2 separate regions of the Homo sapiens genome follow, and region 1 is linked to region 2. Evidence: fine-mapped expression QTL. Tissue or cell type: whole blood. Region 2 holds a variant in brackets; the other region holds the start of a gene. All regions are shown on one strand. Distances are from middle to middle.

Region 1 (2,686 bases), 1.0 Mb before region 2:
AACAGAAGAATTCCCCCAAACCCAGTTGACACACATTCTGCATTCAACACGTAACAGCCATTCTGCATATATCCTTGCATTTCAGGCTCCAATTCTGGTTATCAAAGTGTATTTCTGTACAGGAGTGCCTGGCCAGAGGTTTTCTGTTCTCTTTGTCTTGTGATCTGAGGGGCAGTTTCTGAGCTTAGGTTAGAGCTGTGGTTTCCAGAGAATTGCCCACGATATTTTAGCTCCGGGTTGCAGGCTCCCTGGCTCTCCCCAGCCGGCTCCATATTGCTGGGCAGGTCCCTCCCGCCTCGCCCCACGTTCCAAAAGCTGGATTTCCGGGCGGTTCCAAGACCCCACTAAATATGCCTCCAACAACCTGCCCAAGCTTGGCTGGCAATAAACGCTGAGTTAGGGCCCCAGCGACCAACCGCCCCGAGGCGCACTTCCCCCACCCCGGAAGAGGAGGGCGGCAAACTTCGGAAGGCGGGGGTTAGGGGACGAGCTCCGGGGACCACCGCCGCCTCGCCCGCCCCGGGAAGGGCCCGGGCAGCGACCCTGGCTGCAGCTGGAGGGCCACGGGGGAAGGGAGCGCTCCTTCCCGCAACACGAAGGCAGCGGCCAGGGCGCTCTCCTCCGGTGAGGGGCCCCGGAAAACTGCAGCAAGGCGACAGCGGGGACCCTCCGAAGTGTGCGGTGACGGAGGGTGGGAGGAAGCCCGAGCTCGTCGGCAACTCCGGGGGCAAATGCGACCGGCGGCGTGCAGGACCAGCTCGCAGGAGGACGGGGGAAACGGGAGTCAGGATGGCGGGGATCTCACAGGACGCCGGCCGCGCGCGGGGGTAGTGCTGCCCGGCGGCCAGGAGATGCCGGAGGCGGGGAGGGCCGGTGGCCAGCCCGCTTCCCCCCGGCGGGGCTCTGCAGAAGGAGAAGCCGCTGCCAGTGACAGGAAGAGAGTCGCGGCAGCCGTGCACACATGCACCGCCTCCCCCGCCCGAGCACACACACCCGGGGCTGCTGCTGCCTACCTACCCCGCCCGCCGGCTTCCTTCCTCTGCGGGGCCCGCGCTGCAGCGGTGGCCTCCTGCCCGCTCGGTTCCGACCGGCCTCCAGCCCGGCTGCGACCCGCCGGCCGTGCCCGATCCGTGCTTGCCGTCTCCGACAGCTAGCCTGCCGCCCTCGCCGCTGCCGCTGCTTCCTCCAACTCCGCTCCAGCTGCTGGCGACTCCTCTCCGTGCGCCCGCAGCTCCAGCGCCCGGCGCTAGCCCCGCCTCCGGCCCGGCCCCGCGCGCCCCGCCCCCGAGCCCACACCAACCAGAGCCCGCGGCTCCGCCCCTTTCCGTCCGCACGGCTCGGGCCTCCGAGCCGGCGGCTGGCAGTGGGGGAGCGAGCTCAGGCCTGGCGGACCCTTCCTGCCACCGCCCTCGCCTTCCGCCCCCCAGCCGCGGGGATGCCCCGGGCGGCCGTGCCGCGCGCTGCCTCCGCTGCGGAGTGCTCTGGCTCTACACGTCCCGGGCCCGCCCGGCTGCTGGGCGTCTCCCAGCGCAGAGGCGGAGGGGTTCGGGGAGGTCGAAGACAAGTTCAGACCTCCCTGGAGGCTGGCTGCGTCTCTAATCCGAGTGTCTTTCAGCCAACCCCAGGCTTTTTCGAGCCCCTAGCGCCCCAGCAGAGTGGCTGGGGTGGGGAGGACTCGGATTCCAGAGCTCGCCAAAGCGGAGAGGCCCTGCAATTCCTGGTCTCGCCAGCACTGCCTTCCGAGTGGGCGGAAAACCCGCGGCACCCGCCTGGCGCTCCGGGGGTGAAGGAGGGGTGAAAGGGTGAACCGGAGGGACGGGCGCCCGCAGCCTGCCGCTGGCTAACTCCGGCAGCCTGGCACCGCCGCCTCCGGGAGCCAGGCGGACCCGCGAGAAGGGAAGAGAGTTTTCTGAGGGCGTACGCTGGCTGATGGCTTCTAGTCCTGAGATGACAGAGCAAATGGAGGTCACTCAGGCAGACCACGGGCCCCTCGGCGTTCGCGGAGTCGGGGGCGGGGTTGGCGGGGGGTGGGGTTGGCGCGGGCGGGGGGGGCGGGGAAGCGCAGGTGAATTACATTGTCTCTTAAAGGTGTTAGTTTTGAAATGCATATTCTTCAAGTAATAATTACCTAAGTTGCTCCAGAAAAATTTGATGTTGGTTCAAACCTTCCACTGATGGTAAGATGGAATGCCAGCACCACGTGTGCCACTCTTTCATATTAAAACATGTGAGAATCTGCTTCCTAAAAGCTCTTTCCAGATTCTCCTTTCTGCAGCTTAAAGCCCTGCACCCGCCCACCCTGTTTGCCTAAAGCCCTTTTATAGTTCCCTCCCAGTTTCCTTGCAAGAAAACTCTTAAAAACAAACACACAAAACCTAAGCACTTGGCCTCTGTAAAACGTTGAATTTGGTGGTTTATTCTTGTGGACGTTGGAAGTAGAGGGAAGAACGTCCTAAAATTCATCGCTTATCCTTAAAAAATATCATTTTTAAAGGTGACTCACCTAACAGAAAAGTAAGCTCCACTTTAGGCTATTCAGACACTGGTGTTTCTATTATTCCAAGATGTCTCTTGCAGAGGCGACACAAAAACAGGCAGCTACCCACATCATGTTTAAGAATACACTTTATCTGAAAGCAAATAGGAAATTTACCAAGGTACCTTCTTCACACCTACTGTGTGAAAT
Region 2 (2,686 bases):
ATTGTAGGTTTTCATCAGCTGGGTCTGAGTCTGGTAGGATGGGAAAGTGAGGCCTGCCTGACTTGCATAGTGAGGAAATCTTGGAATTAGAACAACACATACATAGCGGGTGAGTTACAGGGGTGGGCTCACATTTCTCGTTTTACCTTGACACTGGTTCATATCAAGTGGACTTTACTACTATTTTGAGTTCTCCTTCCTAAATTTCTAGCTTCCAGTTTGAGATTAGAACTATTTCTTCGTCACCAGGATAGCAAGCTCTTTTGTGTCTTTTTGTCTGAAGAAAAATAGTTCTCAGAGTTCCCCCTCCCATCCCACCATTCTACACACAGTATTGCCTTGGACTTGCCCTACTCCAGGATTCAGCCCCCAGGATCTGACCCACAACATTGCCTTGGCCTATAAAATTTTCATTTTGTTCCCTTTAAAAATAAATGCAGTGTTTTTATACTGAAACAAGGATGCATCCCACATGGTCAAACATAATTCAAACAGAGCAGTGTGTGTATTCAATGAAAAGTCTCCCTCCCCACACCACAGTCCCTGAGTTCATCTCCTCAAAGACAATCACTCTACCATTTTCTTGGGTACCCTTCCACTTTTCCCTCACTTGCAATGGAATGATTGCTGTTTTTATAGGAACAAAAGAACACCGTGCACACTCCTGTGCTCCTTAGGTTTTGTTCTTAACAATATTCAGTAATTTGTAAATCTAAGTGAATACATGCAAAGCCCTTAGAACAGTGCCCAGCCCATAGTTTATGCTAAATAAATGTCCCTTCACATGGGGGTATATCAAAAAACACACTGCAGCCTTCAAGAGTTTAAACCAACTAGACCCCAGGAGCACACAAGAAAATGATCCAGAGCCCAGAGGTGCTTTGTTCCACTCACATTTTCAGAGACAGAGTCCCTGCAGGCTTGGCTGTCACCTCTCCCACTTCATGTGTGGCATTTGAAGAAAATATTGCCATCAGTGCTCACCTTCTCCTAAATGAAGTCACACACCTACCTCCCTCTGATTCTGCCCAGTCTAAACAATACAAGAAATAAATGCTTCATAGTGGGTTTTGCTGCAACCACTTTCAGAAAACAGAGAAAAATCCCTTCTTGCCCTTTAATTTGATTGCATAGTAATGAAAGATAAATTCAATCAGATATAATGAGCTGCGTTGAGTCAGCATCCCAAACAGTGTGGCCAAAGCTGGCTCAGCTCTGCACCAGGTCACGGGTGTTTCTAAAGGGTCATGCAGACAGTCTCTTGCTTTTGGCCACTGTCCGAAACCTCTCCGCCCAAGTCCCTGAATTAGAGCAGAACTCACAGGTGATATAAATTCAGAAGTTAGTTAGGGCAAGGGCAAGGCATGGGGAAGAGACCAGTGAAGTCTCTGTTCCTCGTCAGAAGCAGTTCTCAGTGCAGAGGGCTTTATCTGATAGCCTGAAGAACACATCCTCTGTTGTCACCACTTTCAGTTCCCTAGCGAGGGAAGCCTGCCAGCACTTCCTGTTGTTGAACACCGAGGACCCTTTGA[G/C]GTGCCTGGGGCCACACCGGCAGCTCACAGCCACCCTGCCCAGCCGGGTCAGACCAGCAACCCAGGCGGGGCTGTGGGGCTGAAGCAGGGCAAGGGCACGGGCTCTCTGAATATTTGGTTGTTTGGGTGTCTGTGGAGTTTGGGAGAGCTCGTGACTGCATTTAGGAAGGAGGCTGGTGACTTAAGTAAACACGTGCCGCTCCAGAACAAATAGTCAAGAGTCCATTTAAATTCATTCTCCCCAGAGACTTTTGTTGCAAATATGCAAGGGTTGTGGGCTCATGGACATGTGCGCACACACGCAGGGTCTGCCCAGCAACTGAAGATGGGGAGAAATGCCATCACAGTGGCGATCCAATCTCACAGGGGAGGAAACGTGAGAGGCCTGACCCTTCCATGTTCCTCGCTGAGAGGCTTATGTGGGGTGAGGGACTGGGTCAAAACAAGGCCCAGCAATCACAGACAACTGTTCTTGCCACTGAGTCTCCGCCACATTCCTCAAAGCCCTGTGCACCTGATCCACACACCCGCATAGCTGCACATTCACGGGGAAAGGAGCCTAATTTCAGAACAGCTGCGGCTTCTTCACTGAGCCCATCGTATAAACTTTCTCAAAGGCCCTGACAACAAGAATATCAAAACTCCAGGAAGAAGTTGAGTAAACAGGTCACAGTTACCTAAAGTGGCACTCGGCCAAGCCACCTGTGCCAACAGAGATCCAGGGGATGAATGACCTCAACTGCTCCAGACCAGAGCAAGGAGAAACTTTACTGCAACAACATAATTGGGCCACTAGAGCCCTATGCGCAAACGCAAAGGCAAGGGCCAGAAAGACACCCCAAAGCATGTCCTTACCTAGAGCCGTGGTTGTAAATGCCAAGACTCAGACCAAGCTCAAGAGGAAGGTCAAAAGTCCACAGTTACTGTTCATCACGGAGGGAATGAGGGCTGTGGGCTGAGCATTGTTCCGGAGGTAGAATCGGACCAAGTCCTCTGTGCACAGATAGGGGAGAGGAGCAGGGCATAAGTTTAGAGAAGGGATCAGACACTCTCCAGAGAAGGATGGATGACAACTCCATGCAGCTGTCTGGAAAGTTCAGCGCTGTTGAGCCATTCCAGTGACTTTAGGGAATTAAGATGTTTGGGGTAGAATT

Evidence for each region. PIP is the estimated chance that this variant, and not a neighbour inherited with it, causes the effect.
Region 1: it holds the start of PIK3R1, and the variant in region 2 is fine-mapped to the expression of PIK3R1 in whole blood (TOPMed, PIP 0.95).

The regions. Positions count from the first base shown.
Region 1 is chr5:68,214,281-68,216,966 of GRCh38, reverse strand. It overlaps PIK3R1 (phosphoinositide-3-kinase regulatory subunit 1), which reads right to left and starts at 1,211. Exons shown (of 16, transcript NM_181523.3): 1 at 1,018-1,211. RefSeq lists silencers at 495-1,594, 1,815-2,034.
Region 2 is chr5:67,214,806-67,217,491 of GRCh38, reverse strand. No RefSeq gene overlaps it. Among named protein-coding and RNA genes, the nearest start is that of CD180, 19 kb to the right of the region's middle. RefSeq lists an enhancer at 1,353-1,592. The variant G/C (reference allele first, on the strand shown) is at 1,533.